3 linked regions of the Homo sapiens genome follow. The protein of the gene in region 2 interacts with the protein of the main gene of each other region in a pairwise test. Each region holds a gene or a part of one and is shown on either strand. Other genes may lie near its edges.

Region 1 (7,733 bases), on a different chromosome or scaffold from region 2:
ATTTCTTTACTTTTCATTTTTCTGGCTACATAGTAGGCCCCAGGGTGTTTTATTCATTGAGTTTCCCTTCTTCTATCCTTCTCCTTCTCTCTTTATTCTTTTATTTTTATTTTTTTCAAAGATGGAGTCTTGCTCTGTCGCCAAGGCTGGAGTGCAGTGGCACAATCTCGGCTCACTGCAACCTCTGCCTCCCAGGTTCAAGCAATTCTCCTGCCTCAGCCTCCTGAGTAGCTGGGACTACAGGCATGCACCCCCACACCTGGCTAATCTTTGTATTTTTAGTAGAGACTGGGTTTCATCATGTTAGCCAGGCTGGTCTCGAACTCCCAACCTCATGATCCGCCTGCCTCAGCCTCCCAAAGTGCTGGGATTACAGGCATGAGCCACCGCGCCGTGCCCGGCCCCTTCCTTCTTTATTTTATTGATTCTTTCCCTGTCTCATAGACTCATGTGTGAATTCTGCCATCTTTTCTCCCAGGCATCCATTCACCAGGCATCCTCAGCCCCTGCTATGGCCTGGCTCTCTGGGGTCAGCTTTGTTCCCTGCCTGCCTTCTGCTGAGGAATCAGGGCAGTGGCGGGGGCGGCCCCACCAGCCCGCAGTCACTGGCCCAGACACAGCGCTGGACACAACACCCCCCGCTTCCCACAGCTGCTGATTCCCGAGGACTGCCGGACGCACAGCTCCATAACAAGATTTTGGGAAACAAAGTCAAGAGTGAGGGTGCTGGGCGCTAAACAAGGCCTTTTGGGAGGAAGCAAACCCCCTCCACGATCTGATCACAGGAGAGTCAGGGAGGAAGATCTGGGCCATGGACTTAAAAAATGTGGGGAGGCCGGGCACAGTGGCTCATGCCTGTAATCCCAGCACTTTGGGAGGCCAAGGCGGGCGGATCATGAGGTCAGGAGATCGAGACCATCTTGGCTAACACCATGAAACCCCGTCTCTACTAAAAAAAAAAAAAAAAAGAAAAAAAGAAAAAATTAGCTGGGCATGGTGGTGGGCGCCTGTAGTCCCAGCTACTTGGGAGGCTGAGGCAGGAGAATGGCGTGAACCCGGGAGGCGGAGCTTGCAGTGAGCTGAGATTGTGCCACTGCACTCCAGCCTGGGCGATAGAGCAAGACTCCGTCTCAAAATAAATAAATAAATAAATAAATAATGTGGGGAGGAGGCCAGGGGCATGGTGTCTCACGCATGTAATCCTAGCACTTTGGGAGGCCAAGGCTGGTGGATCACTTGAGGTCAGGAGTTCGAAACCAGCCTGGCCAACATGGCAAAATCCTGTTTCTACTAAAAATACAAAAGAATTGGCTGGGCATGGTGGCAGGTGCCTGTAATCCCAGCTACTCGGGAGACTGAGGCAGGAGAATCGCGTGAACCTGGAAAGCAGAGGTTGCCGTGAGCTGAAATCAGACCACTGCATTCCAGCCTGGGTGACAGAGCGAGACTCCATCTCAAAAAAAAAAAAAAAAAAATAGAAATGTGGCAGGAAAGTGCACACAGGAGAGCCCACGCCGGGCACATCACTTATTGTTGCGTTTTCTGCATTCCCAGCTGCTTAGCTCCTATTTAGGGTGTAACTAGGACTTTGGTGCTACCTGGTTTCGGAAGACGCCCGTCTTCCAGGAGACAACTGAGCGGCGCTTTATACCTTCCACGGTGAAGCACAGCCAAGTTTCGTTCCGATCGTTGGCTTCCCATAGGTTTTTAAATTGGAAGTAGAATGTGCCTGGATACATTGCCTTCATCGGGTTTCTGAAGGCACAAGAGAGAAACCCCAATGCAGAGACCCCCGCACCGGAGTCCTCAGGGCTGATGCCCACTGAACACAGCTGCCTGGACGTCCCTGGGCTCTGGGCCTCCCCCATCCCTCCACAGCCCTGAGAATGTCTGCTGCTTTCCCAGGCAGGAAGACGGGGAGAGAGAAAGAGGAGGGGACGCTGGCAGGGGCAGCAGGGCCGGGGTGACCTCTCCTAGCTGGAACCCCAGCTCTGGGGCTACCAATGGAACACCCTCAACCTCCCAGTTTTTCTGCTACTTTTTTTTTTTTTTTTTTAAAGACGGCATCTCGCTCTGTCCCCCAGGCTGGAGTTTGCAATCTCAGCTCACTGCAACCTCCACCCCTCGGGTTCAAGGGATTCTCCTGCCTCAGCCTCCCAAGTAGCTGGGATTACAGACGCCCGCCAGCACCCCTGGCTAATTTTCTGTATTTTCAGTAGAGACGAGGTTTCACCATGTTAGTCAGGCTGGTCTCAAACTCCTGACCACAAGTGACCCGCCCGCCTCAGCCTCCCAAAGTGCTAGGATTACAGGCATAAGCCACCGTGCCTGGCCTAAAATAAGAGCATTTCTCCTGATCATCATATTTTTTCCTACACTCCATGTTGCAGGTGTCATTCTGAAAGGTGAACGGTGCTCACAGAGGAGGAGCCTGTGTCTGGGGTCGTGTGCATCCTACTCTGCTCACAGTGGAGGCATCTTTGGAAGAAGTGACTTATTTTCTGGTACAGAGACCATTCCCTCCCCCACACCCTCTCCTAAGACTTTGTATTGAAACAAAGTAAATCTTACAGAAATTGCACCAAAGCGCTGAGAACAAAATGCCTGATTGCTCAAATCATCCTTTGGTTCAATTCTCCCAGTTCCAGAGCTCCCAGGAATAGTGGGAAGCACACAGAGGAAGCACCCTCCCAGGGCGGGAAGCACCAGCCCGGGCATGATTTTCGGGGGAGAGTCTCAGCAGGCGGACTGGGCTGGGGCAAGTGGGGAAGGTGGCCCATTCAGAAGCAGCAGTCGTGGGACCACACAGCAGGGCAAGGAGCTTGGCTGGGAGTGGGGGCAGCGGGGGAACCAGGGGGGAGGGAGCCCAGAGGTGGGGCTGGGGCAGGGGGAGGCCAGGGCTGAGGCCCAGCAGGACCGCCTGGCAGGAAGTGGCAGGAGGGGCCTGGCGGACAAAGCGTGCAGAGGTACCTGATCTGTGGATTCATGTTCAGCCTCTTAGATATGCTTGTCCCTGTCCCACTCTTTTCTGAAGCGCTGTGGCTTCTCTTCCTGCTTACAGCGTCCTTGCAGTTGAGCAGCCCTCTTTAAAGTGACCTCCCAGGGCCTTGTGAATCATGGCCCCTCCCCATTCCTGCTCAGGCACTGGTGTGGGAGGCCCCGGGGTGCTTCATGTTTCTCTGGCTCTGGCCCTCTTTCTGGTTTTCTCCGGGCCCCTCCTACTGGCAGAGGAACCTCCGATAAAGACAGGCTGCTCTGTCTTTATCTGTCCTGGGCAGGACCCAACGGAACTGCAAAAAGAAGAGAAAGAGAAAGAGAAAGGCATTGCAGCCTGAGCCTGGGACGCGGGTCCAGACCCAGCTGAGAGAGGGGCAGGTGCCCCGTTGCCTGGTGGTTGGGCAGGCTGGAGCCCCCTCTCCACCACCCCCTCCCCAGCCCTAATGTGTGCCCAGAGCTTTGAGCAGCACCACCCTGTTGAGTGAGGGGAGGTTTTGAGACCCCAGTGGGGAAGGAAGTGTGGACTCCGCACAGCACAAGCGAAGGCTTAGGTGTGCCTCGAGTTCCCAGCTGTGTGCTGAGTCCATCGCACGCATCCCCTCTTCCAACCTCCCAGCTTCCAGAAGGTGGGGGGCAGTTCAGCCCCTCAGAGATGTGGGCGGAGGATTACCTAGGTGCTGAGGCAAGAGACTGAAGGCACAAACTGTTTCAGTATAATAAAGAATATACTTACAATAAGAATAGTTATAATACAAATTAGATACAGAGATGATCATGGACATTATCAATCATTAGTGTAGATATTATTAATCATTAGCTTTTAATATTACTCTTTATTGTATTACTAATATAACCAAGAAATAACCGGTGGGTATAGGGTCAGGTGCTGAAGGGCTGTTGTGAGAAGTGACCGAGAATGCAAGAGGTGAGCCCTCTGTCACACCCGCATAAGGGCTACTGGAGGGCTCCTTGGTCAGGCGGTAACGCCAGTGCCTAGGAAGGCATCGTTACTTAGCGGACCACGAAAGGGAGTCTCCCTTTTCTTGGAGGAGTCAGGGAACGCTCAGCTCCACCAGCTTCTTGTGGGAGGCTGGATAGTATCCAGGCCTGCCTGCAGCCATCCGGAGGCCTAAACCCCTCCCTGTGATGCTGTGCTTCAATGGTCACGCTCCTTGTCCACTTTCCTCCTGTACTCCTGGTCCCTCTTTGAAGTTCTCAGAAGATAGCGGTAGAAGAAATAGTGAAAGTCTTAAAGTCTTTGATCTTTCTGATAGGTGCATAGAAGAAAACGCTGACGTATACTGCCTTCCCTCTCTGCTTCGGCTACCTATAAGGGAAGGGCCCCCTGTCCTATGATCACGTGACTTGCTCGACCTTATCAATCACTTGGACGACTCACCCTCCTTACCCTGCCCCCCTTGTCTTGTATGCAATAAATAACAGTGCACGCAACCATTTGGGGCCACTACCCATCTCCGTGTCTTGATGGTAGTGGTCCCCCGGGCCCAGCTGTTTTCGCTTTATCTCTTTGTCTTGTGTCTTTACTTTTTACGATTTCTCATCTCCACACACGGGGAGAACACCCACTAAGCCCCATAGGGCCAGACCCTACATCAGGGACTGCGATGTCTGCGACATCAAGCGGTGGAAGCAAGTGTCTACAAACAGGCTCACGGCCCACAGGGACCTCTCAAGGGGTTCCGTGTGGACCAAGAAAATGTGAAACACATACACACACAACTTTCTGATTATTTAAGTTCATCTAAGCATATTTTGGAGGAATGAATGTACATTGTATCCTTGAAATAATCTTCCTAAATAGATTCCTTTAAGGGGAGTTTGTTCTTGTGGGGGAAAGAAAGAGAGATGAGACTGTTATTGTGTCTATGTAGAAAGAGGAAGACATAAGAAACTCCATTGTGATCTGTACTAAGAAAAACTCTTCTGCCTTGAGATGCTGTGAATCTGTAACCCTAGCCCCAACCCTGTGCTCGCAGAAACATGTGCTATATTGACTCAAGGTTTAATGGATTTAGGGCTGTGCAGGATGTGCCTTGGTAAAAATGTGTTTGCAGGCAATAAGCTTGGTAAAAGTCATCGCCATTCTCCAGTCTCGAGTACCCAGAGACACAGTGCACTGCGGAAGGCCGCAGGGACCTCTGCCCAAGAAAGCCTGGGTATTGTCCAGGTTTCCCCCCACTGAGACAGCCTGAGATATGGCCTCATGGGAAGGGAAAGACCTGACCGTCCCCCAGCCCGACACCCGTAAAGGGTCTGTGCTGAGGAGGATTGGTGAAGGAGGAAAGCCTCTTTGCAGTTGAGATAGGAGGAAGGCATCTGTCTCCTGCTCATCCCTGGGAATGGAATGTCTTGGTGTAAAACCCGATCATACATTCTATTTACTGACATAGGAGAAGACCGCCTTATGGCTGGAGGTGAGACATGCTGGCGGCAATACTGCTCTTTACTGCACTGAGATGTTTGTATAAAGTCAAACATAAATCTGGCCTACGTGCACATCCAGGCACGGCACCTTTCCTTAAACTTATTTATGACACAAAGTCCTTTGCTCTCATGTTTTCCTGCTGACCCTCTCCTCACCATTACCCTATAGTCCTGCCACATCCCCCTCGCTGAGATGGTAGAGATAGTGATCAATAAATACTGAGGGAACTCAGAGACCAGTGCCCATGCGGGTCCTCCATATGCTGAGCGCCGGTCCCCTGGGCCCACTTTTCTTCCTGTATACTTTGTCTCTGTGTCTTATTTCTTTTCTCAGTCTCTCATCTCCACCTTTCGAGAAATACCCGCCGGTGTGGAGGGGCAGGCCCCCTTCAGTTCCAGCTGGAGAAGTTGTGCTCTCTGTAGAGGCTCTGAACTCCTCTGGCTACCACCTGAAGGCAGATAGGGAGGAGGCTGCGTGGGTGGTAGGGGGTGCAGCAGCGCCCGTTCCTGCACAGAAGCTTACCTATCGCTGCACAAAGCGGACTCCCAGTGGTTGTTTTTGGAAAGTGAAGTTTCCTTCCTTCCTTCCTTTCATCTTCCCCAATATAAATCTTTTAGTTTACAAGTAAATTTTACTATCGAAAATGAAAACTCGGGGAGGGCAGAAAGATCACACACAGGGCTGCCACTTCACACCTGGAGGGTTGCTCCGTGGCCGTCCAGAGGTGCTCCTCACTTCCCAGACGGTACTTCGGCCGGGCCGAGGCGCTCCTCACTTCCCAGACGGTACTTCGGCCGGGCCGAGGCGCTCCTCTTGAAGGTGAAATTTTCTGTTGCCATAAGAAAGAGATGGGGGCAAAGGGTAAGACCATAGATGGAAAATAATCAGTTCCGTTGATCAGAAACACACTTCTTAGAAGAAAATGTAATAATGACCCTAGACCAGGGAGGCATCCTCCAACCCAGCTGTAAGGCGGCAGTTAAGGCACAGTGGGGAAGGGACACCAGCTTTGCAGCCAGGAGACTCTGAGTTCTGCCCCTTCCTTACTGTGTGACCTTGGGTGGTTTACTTAATGTCTCCAGGCCTCTAATTGCAGGCATGAGCCACTTGCCCAGCCCATTTTATTATTTTGAAAACCTTTTCGGGCCGGGTGTGGTGGTTCACACCAGTAATCCCAGCACTGTGGGAGGCCGAGGCGGACGGATGACTTGAGGTCAGGAGTTCGAGATCAGCCTGGGCAACATGGTGAAACCCCGTGTCTACAAAAACAAAAACAAAAACAAAATTAGCCAGATGTGGTGTGCACCTGTAATTCCAGCTACTAGGGAGGTTGATGGGGGAGGATCACTTGAGCCATGATTGCATCACCGCACACCAGCCTGGGCGACAGAGTGAGACCCTGTCTCAAAAAAAAAAGAAAAAGAAAAACGTTTTCCACCTGTGTAATTTTATTTGCAAAAGGTATATATATGGCTGATTGCCGTGGCTCATACCTATAATACCAGCACTTTGGGAGGCTGAGGCGGGCAGATCACCTGAGGTCAGGAGATCAAGACCAGCCTGACCAACATGGTGAAACCCCGTCATGACTAAAAAAAAAAAAAATTACAAAATTAGCCAGGCATGGTGGCATGCACCTGTAGTCCCACCTACCTGGAAGGCTGAAGCAGGAGAATAGCTGGAACCTGGGAAGTGGACGTTGCAGTGAGCGGAGATCTCACCACTGTACTCCAGCCTGGGCCACAGAGTGAGACTCCATCTGAAAAAATTTAAAAAATAAGCCATGTGTGGTGGCTCACGCCTGTAATCCCAGCACTTTGGGAGGCTGAGGCAAGGGGATCTCCTAAGGTCAGGAGTTAGAGACCATCCTGACCAACATGGAGAAACCCCGTCTCTACTAAAAAAGAATACAAAATTAGCCAGGTGTGGTGGTGCATGCCACCATGTAATCCCAGCTACTCGGGAGGCCGAGGCAGGAGAATCACTTGAACCCGGGAGACAGAGGTTGTGGTGAGCCAAGATCGCGCCATTGCACTCAAGCCTGGGCAACAAGAATGAAACATCATCTCAAAATAACAAAATAAAATAATAAAAATAAATATTAAAAAGAAGGTTTTATATATATGGGATCTTTAGTATATGATTATATGAAATATATATCTAGAATATATATATGGGATCTTTTAATATGATTTCTTTTGATATATATAGAATCATCAGTATATGATTATATGTGGAATGTATATACGGAATCATTCGTCACTGACGTTTTTCACTCAGCATAATACCC
Region 2 (7,452 bases):
CATCCTCCACCTCCTGAGTTCAAGCAATTCTCTTGCCTCAGCCTCCTGAGTAGCTGGGACTACAGGCGTGCACCACCACACCCGGCTAATTTTGTGTTTTTAGTAGAGACGGGGTTTCCCCATGTTGGTCATGGCTGGTCTCGAACTCCCAACCTCGGGTGATCCGCCTGCCTCGGCCTCCCAAAGTGCTGGGATTACAGGCATAAGCCACTGCACCCGGCCTGATTTTTGTATTTTTAGTAGAGACGGGGTTTCACCATGTTGGCCAGGCTGGTCTCAAACTCCTGACCTCCGGTGATGTGCCTGCCTCACCCTCCCAAAGTGCTGAGATTACAGGTATGAGCCACCGCGCCCACCTATATCTGATGTTTTATAGACACTGAGATTATGATGTCCCTTGACTTCTGCCCCCAGCCCTGACACCTATTTTGTCACTCTTAAAGCACCCTGTTTGTTGTGGTGCCCATCTGAGCCAAGCATGTGAGGGGATTGGTTGCTTTGTTATACCACGTTTTTCTGGAGTGATCTACCACCTTTGGTCACCTGGTTGGTTTCTGTATCCCTGTCACAGTATCTTCTTTTTGATGCTCCAGAAGACTGCGAACCCTATCCTGTACAGGACCAAATGTGTCAGGAAAGCTCTTGCCCCGCTCCCCCTTTTTCCCAGCTGTTTGGGTGTGTGTCAGATACCTTTGCTTACCTTGTCCTGTTACGTTCCAGCACCAGCCCCACTACCCCAAGCATCCCCTTCTCACTTGATGACAAGTCTTCCTTCAGCTGCTCAGACCAGATCCCTAGGCCACTGTTGACTCAGTTTGTCCAGAACTGACCACTTCCATGCCTCCCCTTCAAATACCTGGTTGAACCTGGTGCCACATTGGGGCACTAGGGCTGCCTAAGGGTGGGGTGAGGGGAGTCTTATTGTCACCCTGGTGGCCAAGGCTTTCTTAATTGGGAGGGTGTTTGGGGAAGCAGCTTGGCCTGATGCCTGTATCCCCCACATGACTTGCGGACAGTCTGGTACTTGTGTGAGGGCCTCAGGTATAGAACACACAGAGCCTTGGTGAGCTGGTATCCTTGTGTATGGCAGGACCATGGGCCGGGACCAGGGTGCAGCAAGTGCCTTGCACCTGGTGTTCAGAGAGCCCAGTACTAGCTGGGCAGGCCCAGGAACTGTGTGTTCAGGGCCTGGACAGGCTCCTGAACCATAGGGTCAGAGTTCATGGGGGAGGCAAGGCAGACCAAGGCTGCAACAGTAGCAGCTCCTTGCACCTGACCTCAGTGTGCCCCTCAGTGACTCTGAATGAGGCCCAGGGATCCCCTGAGGGCCCCCTAGGAAGTTACGGTCTCAAGGCCATGCCCCTCACTTGCCCCCTCCTCTTCCTCAGCCCCATAGGCTCCTTCAATTTCCGTGATCCTCGGAGTCCCCAGGAGACCAGGTGATGGCAGCAGCCAGACTCCTGCCAGTGCCGGCAGGACCCCAGGTAAGCTGTCCCCAGTGCTTATGCAGTGCCCCCAGCCCGAGCCCTGTGGTTCCTTCCGTGCCCCGTAGAGCTCCTAAGAGCAGCCAGAGCGTCACCACATGCCCTGAACTCCGCGGCCCCTTCCCATCACCCACCTCAGCTCACAGAGCCCCCCACTGCCAACTGCTCATGTCACATGTCACATGCACCCACTCCCCATCACAGACATCAGGATTTGGTTTTACCTGCAGCAGCCCCTGTCGTTCCAGGCCAAGCTGACCTTCGAGGATGTGGCTGTGCTCCTCTCCCAGGATGAATGGGACCGCCTGTGCCCTGCTCAGAGGGGTCTCTACAGAAATGTGATGATGGAAACCTATGGGAATGTAGTCTCATTGGGTAAGCCACCTTAGCAGGCCTCGTCTATGTATCTGCGTATTGGACTGGGGTGGGGGCTTCTCAGGGTACGGGGCCTGGGACAGGCTGGTCCTGGAGGTTTGCTCTCATCACCTCTCTGGGTGCTCAGCTCCAGCAGAAGATCAGTCCTGTCCATTTTCATGTCCCCACAAGTGGCTTGGGCAGGGGGAGGGGGCTCTGTAAATGTTGTGTAAACAAAGACTTCCCTCCCCACGAGCAGGACTTCCAGGATCCAAGCCTGACATAATCTCCCAGCTGGAGCGAGGGGAAGATCCCTGGGTCCTGGACAGGAAGGGGGCTAAGAAGAGCCAGGGCCTGTGGAGTGACTACTCAGGTGAGTGAGGAGAGCTGGCCCCTCCCTCACTGAGGGCTAAACAGGTCCTGAGCAAAGCTGTGGACCTAGTTCATACTGTGCCGCTCACTGGAGTGGCTTCCACCTGGAGTAAAACCTTATCTGGCCTTATCTGGCAAAGGAGTCTATAGACTGGGGGTTGCTGAATCAGGTGGCAGCCCATGGCTGGAAGTGAGCATAGCAGTGAATTTCAACAAGCTGATGTGCAGAGCCATGTAGAGGAAGTTAGGGCATGGCTGCAGTGATTCTGTCCCTGACCAGAGGGACTGGTTAGCCAGATTTGGTCCTAATAGGACATTCAGGTTTTGAGAGTTACCTGATGATTTAGAAAATAACAAAGCATCCTAAATGTGGAAAGGAAGTGTCTCAACCTGACACTTAAGGTGAAGTGCTGAAAGCACACTGTTTCATCTCAGAACAAGACAAAGAAGCCCGCCATCCCCATGTCCATATAATGTTGTACTGGGTATCCCATGTACAAAATAAGGCAAAACCGGCCAGGCGTGGTGGCTCAAGCCTGTAATACCAGCACTTTGGGAGACTGAGGCGGGTGGATCACGAGGTCAGGAGATCAAGACCATCCTGGCTAACACGGTGAAACCCTGTCTCTACTAAAAATACAAAAAATTAGCCGGGCATGGTGGCATGCACCTGTAGTCCCAGCTACTCGGGAGGCTGAGGCCTGTAGTCCCAGCTACTCCCAGATTCATGGCGTGAACCCGGGAGGCAGAGGTTGCAGTGAGCTGAGATCGCTCCACTGCACTCCAGCCTGGGGGACAGAGCATGAGACTCTGTCTCAAAAAAATAAAAATAAAAATAAGGCAAAACCAAAGCTATAAGAATTAGAAAGAAAAAAGCATTGTTTGCAGTTTATGTGATTGTCAACCTGGAAAATGATTGATTAAAATTCACAAGGGAAATTACCAGTTTTGCTGGATACAATTTTTTTTTTTTTTTTTTTTTTTTTGAGACAGTCTTGCTCTGTCGCCCAGGCTGGAATGCAGTGGCATGAGTCTCGGGTCACTGCAAGCTCCGCCGTCTGGGTTCAAGCAATTCTTACGCCTCAGCTTCTCGAATAGCTGGGATTACAGGTCCATGCCCCTATACCCAGCTAATTTTTGTATTTTTAGTAGAGACAGGATTTCACCATGTTGGCCAGGCTAGTCTCGAACTCCTGACCTGAAGTGATCCACCTGCCTCAGCCTCCCAAAGTGCTGGTATTACAGGCATGAGCCACTGCACCTGGCCAGAAATGTTTTATTTATATTTGTCAGCAACCAGCAAAGGTGTAATATTTTAAAAGATAACATTTATAATAGCATCAGGAATATAAAGCATCCAAGAATTAATCTAACAAAAGATGTACAAGACCTTTAGATGGAGAAAATTATAAAAAGAAAGATGGTGCATAGATCCAACCCTGAAGTTCATGTTTGCGGTTGCTTAAGGCAAAGAACCTCTGACTTCAGTAAGGTGACGTCTGAGTCTTAGGAAAACCTCAGTCAGCCTGTCCTGCCATAATGTGCCCCACTTGGGGAGAGTAGGGACAGTTTGGGCAACACCTCCATTGGCTGATCAGCTTCAGCATTTCAGATGTGGTGGTTTTCCCCTTGAAAGCTCCTCCTTATTTCTAAAGTAGCTTTATGTGGATAGGGCACCAGGTATTACAGTCTACCTCTTACTGGCCTGCAAAATCAGATATCCTCAGAGGAACAAGGTACATGCCAGCCTTAGAGGAATTTAATTTTCCAGTGACTATACAAGAAGACACATCATCATGTCTTGGAAATCTTGCATAGAACTTCTGCTTACTGACTGCAGCTGTAGGAGACAAGAAAACACAGGAGGGCATTTTGCTGCCACTGCCAAACCAGTCCTGGGCTCCCTTGTGTCCAGCTATGTACTCGCCTGATGGAGAGCTTAAACTGCCTTTGAGCGCCCTTTGATTTGACACCACAGAGACTGTGAAATTCTCTGGGAGCATGGCTGGTTGGAGATGAGAAGTTTTTTCATGGAAGCACCTGGTCCCCTCACCTCTAACACAGGCCACAGAGGACGATGGGACTGAGTTTTAGATTACTGATGTGCATAGAAACAGAAGCCACCTGCCACAACCTGGATCACTGCCACTAGCATCAGAGCAAGCGAGGAGTAGATATGCCTTTGTCTTGTCCTGGCAGTTCCTCAGGATGGATAAGTGTGTGCACCTGCCCAGCCCTGACCCTGCTGTTTGTAACTCAGTAAATTACATGTTGTAATAGCAACGAAAGGATTTTCCACTCTTTTTTTTTTTTTTTTTTTTTTTTTTTTGAGAGACGGAGTTTCACTCTGTCCCCCAGGCTGGAGTGCAGTAGTGTGATCTCGGCTCACTGCAACTTCTTGTCTCCGGGGTTCAAGCGATTCTCCTGCCTCAGCTTCCCTAGTAGTGGGGACTACAGGCATGCACCACCATGTCCAGCTAATTTTTGTATTTTTTAGTAGAGACGGGGTTTCACTATATGTTGGCCAGGCTGGTCTCAAACTTCTGACCTCAAGTGATCCACTCACCTTGGCCTCCCAAAGTGCTGGGATTACAGACGTGAGCCACCATGCCCGGCCAGGATTTTCCACTCTTGAAGGGAGTATTTTGTTGTCACTTCAACTCGCTGTTTTTTTTCCAGACAACCTCAAATATGACCACACTACAGCCTGTACACAACAAGACAGTTTATCTTGTCCATGGGGTAAGTGTATGCCTGATCTTTTTAATTCAGTACAATCTCTGAAGGTGTTAACACTAATGTTTTACAAGAATGTAGAGGCGACTCGGTGCTATGAAGCGTGTTAAACAACTCACACAATTGCTACAAAACACCAGGGAGGGGCTTTTTGTGTTTTTAATTTTTAAAACATTTTTCCTTTTCTTGTGAGCCATAGTAGGCCTAGAGAGATTACTGGGTTTTTATAATTAAACATTTATTTCGGTGAAATCATTTTGTTTCCTTTTATTTGTTCCGTCATGCTTAAAACATACTTCCCTACTTTATACTTAACAACCAAAACCATTATTCTAAAAGCAAGTGACTCTTGGCTGAAGTCCAGCTTCTGCACAGTATGGATGCAAGGTGCAGGCAAGTTTGGCCTTCACAGCAACTTGATTCTGTCTCACAAGCAGTCATATGATGCTTTCGTGCCATGGATGATTGAGCGAGTAGTCTCTTATGCAGTTAGTTTAGTGTGTGTGTGTGTTTTCTTTTTTTCAGGCTGGAGTGCAGTGTAGAGACAGAGTCTTGCTGTGTTGCCCAAGCTGGTCTCAAACTCCTGGGCTCAAGCAATCCTCCTGCCTCAGCCTCCCAACATGCTGGGATTACCGGCATGAGCCACTGTGCCTGGCCTGTGTTTTTATTATTAAAGACATCTTGTCTATCTTGTTACCCTGGCATCAGGTCAGAAGCCGCCCATTCAGGAAACTTTTTTTTTTTTTTTTTAGACAGGCTCTCACTCTGTTGCCCAGGCTGGAGTGCAGTGGCATAATCACGGCTCACCAGTCTCAACCTCCTGGACTCAAGCAATCCTCCCACAACAGCTTCCCGAGAGTAGCTATAACCACAGGTGTACACCACCATGCCCAGCTAATTTTTGTAGAGACGGGGTTTCACCATGTTGCGCAAGCTGGTCTCAAACTCCTGGCCTCAAGTGATCCTCCCACCTTGCCCTCCCGAAGTGCTGGGATTACAGACATGAGCCACCACACCGGGTGAAACTTCAGACAATAGAAGTAATACTTTTCAGTGTAAATGAGTAACTATTTCTTTAGCCTATAGGCTTTTATTCCATGAAGATGAGGCTTATACATTAAAAAAAGAAAGAACTAAAACTTCTATCAGTTTAAAAAACACATAGCCAGCTTAGGCAAGATACTGAGACCCCACACTACAAAATAAAATTAAAAATTAGCCAGACATGATGGTGCATTCCTGTAATCCCAGCCACATGGAGGCTGAGACAGGAGGATTCCTTGAGCCCAGGAGGTTGAGGTTGCAGTAAGCCATGATCACACCACTGCACTCCAGCCTGGGTGATAGAGTGAGACCCTGTCTCAAAAAAAAACCCACATAGAGTGACTTTCTAAAATGAGATATGTTAAAAATTGTATTAAACTGGGCCGGGGGTGGTGGCTCATGCCTGTAATCTCAGCACTTTGGGAGGCCGAGGCAGATGGACCACCTGAGGTCAGGAGTTTGAAACCAAGCTGGCCAACATGGTGAAACCCCATCTCTACTAAAAATACAAAAAATTATCTGGGCATGGTGGCACATGCCTGTAATCCCAGCTACTTGGGAGGCTGAGGCAGGAGAATCGCTTGAACCTGGGAGGCAGAGGTTGCGGTGAGCTGAGATCGTGCCATTGCACTCCAGCCTGGGCAACAAGAACGAAACTCTGTCTCAAAAAAATTGTATTAAACTGAAGACAGTGAATTTAAATTTTTTTATTAAAAAAACTGTTAAATTCTCACTGTTTCAATTTGTCAATACACTTAATAAATTCCTCTGAATAGAATAAAAAGACGCAGAATTACCCAAAAAGAAAAGTAGGCACAAATTTCTGCATAGATTAGGAAAACCAAAGGGCCAATAAATAAGAAAACTGCTCAGCCTCATTATTCATCAGTAAAGTGGAAATCAAAACCACTGTGACATGATGTTACACCTTCAGAATGGAAAAAATGGAAAGATCTGACAATATAACATGTGGGTGAGGATGCAGGGCAGCTAATAGGGATGTAAATTCACATAGCCACTTTGGAAAAGTTTGGCATTATCCAATGAAATTGAAAACATGATCACATTCTGAGAGAATGGAGGTAAAAAAAATGAAAAAAAAAATCGAAAACATGAATTCCTATGTTCACCACTTCCCACTCTTGCATATGTATACAGCAAGGACATTTGTGTGTAAGCACCAGGAAACATAGGAGAATCTTCACAGAAGCATGCTTCATGATTTAAAAAAACATTTGAAAAGAATTCAGGACCGGGCGCCGTGGCTCCTGCCTGTAATCCCAGCACTTTGGGAGGCCGAGGTGGGTAGATCACGAAGTCAGGAGTTTGAGGCCATCCTGGCCAACATGGTGAAACCCTGTCTCTACTGAAGATACAAAAAAATTAGCCAGCCATGGTGGCATGTGCCTGTAATCCCAGCCACTGGGGAGGCTGAGGCAGGAGAATCACTTCAACCCGGGAG
Region 3 (7,703 bases), on a different chromosome or scaffold from region 2:
AATAGGCAGCTCAGGCAAGTAAAATCCAGGAGATAACATACTGTGTCAAAAAACTCAAACCATAAAAACACTAGAGGGAAATTCTGGAATATATTTGTAGAATTGGGAGCAGGGGAGGTCTTCCTAAACAACACACAAAATCCAGGAGTTATAAGAGAAAAAAGATGGACAAATCCATATAAAAATGTTTAAACCTTTGAAAAATGAAAGATGTAACAAAGTTAATAAGCAACAGAGTGGGAGAAAATATAACAAGAACTCAGAGCCGTAATATATAAAGAGCTCCTACAAATCAATAAGATCAACAACCAAATAAAAATATGGACAAAAACTATCAATAGGCAAGTCCCAAAATAAAAATAGTTAATAAATACAGGAAAATATGCACCAACCTATCAACAATAATTACAGTAGCTACTAATATTTGTTAACTTCATTCTTTGTGCTAGATATATCTTAATCTTTATGACAACACTGTAAGGTAGGTACTATTATTGTACCCATCTTAAAGACAGAAAAACTGAAGCACAGAGCAGTTATTTACCCAAGGTTTAATAACTAGTAACCTGTGAACTGTATCACTCAATGAAATATAAACTTAAAACAATAACATTATTTTTTACATATCAGAATGGTAAAAACGTTTAAACATGATCCCCAGGATTCAAATGGGCCCTTACACATTCCTGGTAGGAGGTATGTTGATTTAACAGTTAAAATACACAGACTCTTTGAGAAATTCTTCTCAGAACCTCTTCGCCTGAGACACATTTGCACAAAGACGCACATACAAGGATGTTCCCGTATCGTTGTAATAATACAAAACTGGAAACCTAGGTATCCATCAACTGGAAATGGGTTAAATGAATTATGTCCTAACTTCACTAATGAACAGTATGCAGTCACTTAAAACAAGTGTATGTAACAGAGGTGAAAGAATCACTAAAATCAGTTGTTCTAAGAAAAAGCAAAATACACACGTAGGCGTGTGTGCGTGTGTGTATGTGTTTGTGTTTTTTATATAAAAAAATTCAGCTAGGCGCAGTGGCTCACGCCTGTAATCCCAGCACTCTGGGAGGCCGAGGCAGGCGGATCACAAGGTCAGGAAATCAAGACCATCCTGGCCAACATGATGAAACCCCATCTCTATTAAAAATAAAAATACAAAAATTAGCAGGGCGTGGTGGCCCATGCCTGTAATCCCAGCTACTCGGGAGGCTGAGGCAGGAGAATCGCTTGAACCTGGGAGGCGGAGGTTGCAGTGAGCTGAGATCGCGCCACTGCACTCCAGCCTGGTGACAGAGCAAGACACTGTCTCAAAAAAAAAAAAATTCAAAGTCACCTGGAGCCTCTGTATTTTTTTACATAAAAAACTATACATCTGTGTATGTCAGACATATGTCTGAAAACAGTATCACGAAGAAAGAGCCATCTTAAGCATGTGGCTCTGAACTTGGAATAACGGCACTAGCACCCAGCCCCACCCTCAGCCTACCGTGGGGCCCTGGGCAAGCCCCTTCAGCCTCTCCATGCCTCAGTTTCCCTTACTGTTCAACAGGCATAGTGGGAGCGCCTCCCTAACAGGGATGGGGAAAGGAGCCTGTGCACTGGAGTCCGAGGTGCCAGCATCCACCGCAGATCCACTCACCGAGGATCATGGAGCAGCGCTGGGCGGGTTCCTGGCCCGTGAGCAGCGTGAAGTGTTCGGGGTAGTAGAACTCCAGGGCTTCCAGGAAGGCCTCATAGCCCCTCTTGCCACGGCAGCGCAAGATGTCCATCAGGCGCCCTACAGAGTAGTGGGGGGATGTACCCAGGGTCTAGGGGAAGGCCTCCCCAGGTGCCTGGTTGCTTCTGCCCCCACCATGCTCCAGGCCCACGTTCCCCAGATTTTTGAGCCAGTGACACACACAGGGGCCTGTCCCAACACATCAGGGAAGAGAAGAGAGCCATTCTGCCACAGCCAGGGGAGCACATTCCCTCATGACTCCTGGGCTCCCAGAGCTCCCCAACACCCCCCACAGACACAGATGCCGGCCCGCAAATGCAGCCTGCCTTTTCAATGGCACAGAGAAGCCCCCTCTATCCCCAGAAGCAAAGAAAATACTTCTCCCATTGGCCATGCCTGAAATTCCACCATTAAAGACCATTCCATCATGCCTTTTTGAGTTCTGGTTCAAAGGCACACCCTGTGGGAGTGGGGACCCACGTAAAGCTGAGACGGATCTTGACACTTGAAAAAGGACTCCCCCAGGAGTGTATGGTGCACAGAGGAGGGGACAGACAGAACTCGGAGATCAAAGAGCGCAGGAAAGGTGCCAAGTCCACCGGCTGTGACCGGGAGGTCCCAGGCCCAGCCGGCCCTGGCAGCCACATCCAACCTTCTGCTCTAATGTGGACCCAGGAAGTGGGAGAGAACCCCAAGAGACAAAACTCTGACCCCGGTGTGGGCAACGCGGACCGCCAAGGCGCAGTGGTGGGTGGGGAGGAGGCAGGCTGGTGGGCATACCCAGCCGGCCCACTCTACTGATGCGGAGACCGAGCCCCAGGGCAGCAGAGCCCTAGCTTCGCGCTACACGGCTGTGGGCGCTGCGCCCCAGGGCACGGCCGGCCCAGGTCGTGGCCCACTCGGGACCCGCGGCTCACCGGTGCGGTTGACGCGGCACGGGAAGCGGTAGGTGCTCAGCACCTCCTCCTCGTCCTGCTCGTCGATGACCCGGCACTGGCGCAGATACGGCGTGAGCTTGGCCGGGTTCAGGGCGCGAGCCAGCCGATGCCGGACGCCCTCGATTCGCTCCCACAGCGCGTCCTCCTCCGCCTCAGACCCCGAGCCGGCCCCGGCCTCCTCCTCGGCCTCCCCCGCCTCCGCCCGGCCCGGCATGGCCGTGTCCTCAGGGTCTGCGGGCAAGAGGCGCACGGGGGTCGACCAGGGCTCCCTAGGGCTAGATGTGCGGCCAAGCACCCCCGGGGCGTCGTCCGCAGACCCGCCGTCGGGGGCGCGCCCCGAGCTCCCCGCGACTCACCCCGCACGCTACAGTCGCCTCGGGCTCCCGGGTCCGCACTCGGGCGGCGGCTCCGCCGGCGCAGGGGGGCGGTGCCCGTGGCGCCCCCGGCTCCGCCCCCGTCCCCGCAGCCTCCTGGGCTGCCCGGGCCTCCCCACATTGCCGCCCGCCCCGGGTCGTGCGTCCGGCCCCCGGCCACCCCGCGCGTCCGTCTGCACGCCCTCCCTCCCGGCCGTCCGGCTGCGCCTCCCCCTGCTTCCTGTTTCCCGCCGGCTCTCCAGCCCGGCTCGGCGGGGTCCTGGCCGCCCGCCCACACCTGCCCGGCCTCTGGGCGGGGCGGGGGCGGGCAGGCGCGCTCACACCCCCCGCGCGCCGCGACACACCTTCCCCGGGCCACGCGCATCGCCTCCCCACGCCCACAGCGCGCCCGCCCGTGCGGGGCTAGCCGCTCACGCCCGGCGCAGCCCGCGGGCACTCAAGCTGGGCTTGCCCTTCTCGGGTCCCCACATGCACTGCGGGCGCGGGAGCTTCCCTGGAGCGCAGGACAGCCCCGCGGGGGACAGCAATGGGCAGAGGTCATGGGGGCTTTCTGCAAGATGGGGGTCTGAACCTGCAGGGCAGCACTGCCAACTCCCCTCTTACGCAAACTCCCGTGGCACTTGAGGACCAGGGACCCCACAATTCTCAAAGGGTATTCCTCCAGGTGTTGGTCCCAGAGATGCTGGGGGCGGGCTGTGACTAGCCATCCATACTCCCGCTCCTGCCTGGGAGGCCGGTGGTGTCTTACCATGATACTGGCCGAGTCTACACGGTATCTGCTGGTGCATGCGATACAGTCTCGCTATGCATTAGAAGCTGCCAGGTACCTGCTGCCAGGGAGGAACAGAGGAGGCACAACCGGTACAGGAAAGAGGTGTGAGCTCCCTAATCGCCTTCCACAACTTCTGAATTAGATGCCGTGGACATATGTATTACTTATCCAAAGAATTAAGGTTTCAATCAATAAAGGCTCTGAAAAGCCCTGCTTAAATTAAGGCCGGGGGCGGTGGCTCATGCCTGGAATCCCGACACTTTGGGAGACCGAGGCGAGTGGATCACCTGAGGTCAGGAGTTCGAGACCAGCCTGACCAATATGGCGAAACCCCATCTCTACTAAAAATATAAAAATTAGCTAGACGTGGTAGTGCGCGTCTGTAATCCCAGCTACTCGGGAGGCTGAGGCACGAGAATCGCTTGAACCCAGGAGGCGGAGGTTGCAGTGATATCGTGCCACTGCACTCCAGCAGCCCGGGCAACAGAATGAGACTCCCCCTCAAAAAAAAAAAAAAAAAAAAAAAAAGCCCCAGCAGTAAAGAAACAGATTTAACTTTATATATCCTGGTGTCCTTTTCCAAACTTAATTAACCACAGCCTTTTTTTGGTTTGCATTTGTTGTACATTTGTTTTTGTTTTGGGTGTCACCTGTTTACATGCAGAAGAAATGCTTTGGGAGAACTGAATTCTAGTGCAAATTCCTCAATTAACAAAGGAGGAAGCAGAGCTCAGAGAGGGCAAGGAACTTGCCCAAATTCACACAGCGAGGCCACAATGGGAATAGGCCGGAGCCCAGCCCCTGGCCTCTGTCCTCTCCAAGCCCCGAGTCCAGGCACACACCAGACCTCCCTTTCAATACGTCCTTCCCCTCTCTGTGGCCTTGGTTGCCCTCCCACGCAGAGCGGCAGCTCCTCCCACCAGCAGCCCTACTCCTCGTGAATATTTTTAACTTGGCCAGCAGAGCGGGATGGACGCCTTGGAAAATGAGGCTATGGTTAATTATTTTTTCATCGAGAAGCTAAGCAGGGCCTAAAGATAAGGCACAGAAGCCAAGAGGTCTCTGCAGATAAGTGGACAGAGAAGTGAGGGCACACTGGGTCTGAACAGGCAGGTAGCTGGGTACACCGAGTGCCCCTGGTGCCCAGCATTCCAGGGGAAGCGACAGAGTTCCTTTGGGTACCACACTCCCACATTCACATGTACAATTATACAGGCATGCACACGCACCATCACATACACATGCACACATACACACCCACCCACTGTGGGCATCAAGCCAGGCAGGAGGCAGACAGGGGCGTACCCACTTCCCCACAAACATCTGAGCCTCCTCATCTTTCCCCTGTCCCCGGGCGTCCATAGCACCGAGTGTGCAAGCGTGTGATTAGGTACCATGTTCATTATTGTCCTCTTGTGAGTTCTGCTACATTCATCTTCTCTCTATAGCTATGCCAGGAAGGCGGGCAGGGACTACAGCAGGGACACCGAGAATCTAGACTTTGTACCAGGGGCCCTGGGTTCTATCGCGGGCTCACCGCTATGAGTATTGTTCTTCTTTGAGTCTCCATTTCCCTGTCTGCAAAAGGCAGGCGGTGAGTAGTCCCAGCCACACCTACAAAGGCAGACAGTCCAGGAGTGGAGGGTGCCCTGGAGACCAACATTCAGCCTTAGCTGCATCTACTCGGACAAATTCCTCCCCCTCTCAACTTCTACATCTGAAAAGTGGACAATAGTCCCCCATGTGCAGGGACTGCCTCTGAGTTGCAGTCTCTCCATATGTGAAGTGGGTACAGGAATGTCAGTCCTCTTCCCAACTCATCAAAAGGCATGCCTCCATGTTTCAAACCAGTCTGCGTCCTACTGCCTGTAGCCCCACTGGTCCAAGCCACACATGCCCCCACAAACTCCCACCCACAGTGCTATGGGCTATGGTATGTTCTCCACTCTGCAGCCTTAATGATGTTTGTTTGGTTTGGGAGGTTTTTCTTAGACAAGGTCTGGCTCTGTCACCCAGCCTAGGGTGCAGCGGCCCAATCATAGCTCACTGCAGCCTTGAACTCCTGGGCTCAAGCAATCCTTCTGCCTCAGCCTCCCACATAGCTGGGACTGCACATATGCACCACCATGCCCGGCTACTTTTTTTACCCTTGGTAGAGAGGGGTCTTGCCACGTTGCCTAAGCTGGAAAGAATGATGGTTTTAAAAACATAACAGGTTTTTCTCTGGCTTAAAACCTCTTAATGGTTTCCACCAAACTGGAATAAAATGCAAACTGCCCCCAGACCCTGCTGGCTCCCCCGCCTCCCACTTCCCACTGCCCCACTCGCTCACTAGTCTCATTCTGTTCTTGGAACCTGTCAGCTTCTTCCACATCAAGGCCCTTGTCCACCCTGTTGCCTCTGCTGGGACTGCTCATCCCTCCACTCCTGGTACGGAGGGTTCCTTCTAGCTTTTCAGGTCTCAGATCAAATTCCCCCTCCCTTGATTCAGGAGCACCCTCCAGCAGGGAGTTCCATACACCCCATCCAAGCAATTCTGTGCTACGTAGGGGCCAAAGGACAGCTTCTCCTTCTCCCTCTAGAGGTTTGCCGGAAATGCACTGACAATAGGCAGATAAATAGAAGAAAAAAAGCATAAAAAATGTATTTAACATGCCTAGCACAGGGGAATCATAGGAGAATGATTACCCAGTTATCCATTGAGGTCCAGATGTTTATATCCGCTTCTTCGCTGGGGAAGGGGAGACGGGGCTGTAGGAGTGAATGACTGTTAGGAGGCATTAATGGGCCTGGGAGGCAGACATTATCTTACAGATGATTTTCTTTGGAAATTGAGTGGGACCGAAGAAGAAACACTCATTTGGGACAAAGTTTGTCTGGACTCTAGATGTGGTGTTTAATTTTCTCTTCCTCTGTGATATGAATTTTAATCTCCAGTTAATGAAATTTCAGGGAAGGGATCGAAAGCAATCGTGTTCCTCTTTGGGGTCCAGTTTCTAGCAGATAAGGGAACTTCGGAGAACAGCCTCCTCCTGTGCTTTGGGAGAGACAGAGGATTGACAGAGAGGATGGGGGAAAGGTTGGCAGAGAGACCTTGAGGTTGCGTCTTTATTCAGCCTATCAAAGCGCCTTATTTGGCAGGTATCACTTTCTGAGCCCCGAGAGCTATTTCCTCTCTATCTGACATTTTCCTGGTGCTTGCTTTGCTGCACCAGGAAAATGTCAGCAACCTGTTTGTTGCCTACTTCCATCCCAAGAACAGAGCCGTCCTTGGCTAGCAGGAGTGAGCTGGAATGTTCCAAGAGTGGTGAGGATGAGGAGTGGAGCAGGGGAGGAGAGGAGGTTGAAGGAGGATTGGAAGGGGGGCAGACAGAGCAAAGGCCTTGAAGATCATTATGAGGACTTTGGCCTTTACTTTTCTTGGTAGTAATACGCCGCTATCATTGTCTTCCACAAATCAGCCACAAAGGCCACAGAAGCAGGGATCCACCTTTTTGTTCATTCCTTCAAGGATGCCCCTGGCCCAAGCAACCCTTCCGTTCCTCTTTGTCAGCCTCTGATTGCATCCAGGAATGTGGGTCTGGAGTTATCTAGTCCATAAGTCTGGGTGCCTGGTGAATCTGTGCTCCCTGACCCCAACCCCCAGCCCCATCTCGCCTCCTCTGGCCATCTCTTCACTAGGATCAGGGCCTGGGCCGCATGGATCCCAGCACAGGACCTGGCAGTCAGGTGTTCAGCAGGAGACGAGTGAGTGGGCCCAAGAGTGGGGAGAATTCCTGTGATGAGCTGCACTACACCACAGCCAGAACGCCCAGGGTTCAAATTCCAGGACAATGTGTGCCTGTGATCTTGGTCAAGTTCCTAAACGTTTCTCTACCCCTCATCTGAGGGAC

What was found. Proteins that work in one complex are often made in the same cells at the same time.
Region 1: the proteins of ZNF250 (region 2) and APOBEC3C interact in binary tests that used the Homo sapiens proteins (3 or more experiments, as listed by UniProt).
Region 3: the proteins of ZNF250 (region 2) and CARD10 interact in binary tests that used the Homo sapiens proteins (3 or more experiments, as listed by UniProt).

What each region holds. Positions count from the first base shown.
Region 1 is NC_000022.11:39,009,617-39,017,349, reverse strand, and holds the start of APOBEC3C (DNA dC->dU-editing enzyme APOBEC-3C), read right to left. Parts: upstream 3,094-7,733; 5' UTR 2,988-3,093; coding exon 2,971-2,987; intron 1,756-2,970; coding exon 1,599-1,755; intron 1-1,598.
Region 2 is NC_000008.11:144,884,340-144,891,791, reverse strand, and holds part of ZNF250 (zinc finger protein 250), read left to right. Parts: intron 1-1,388; 5' UTR 1,389-1,442; coding exon 1,443-1,484; intron 1,485-1,717; coding exon of another isoform or gene 1,718-1,732; coding exon 1,733-1,859; intron 1,860-2,097; coding exon 2,098-2,211; intron 2,212-4,889; coding exon 4,890-4,952; intron 4,953-7,452. UniProt on the Homo sapiens protein: May be involved in transcriptional regulation.
Region 3 is NC_000022.11:37,516,323-37,524,025, forward strand, and holds the start of CARD10 (caspase recruitment domain-containing protein 10), read right to left. Parts: upstream 3,094-7,703; 5' UTR 2,879-3,093; coding exon 2,644-2,878; intron 1,787-2,643; coding exon 1,649-1,786; intron 1-1,648. UniProt on the Homo sapiens protein: Scaffold protein that plays an important role in mediating the activation of NF-kappa-B via BCL10 or EGFR.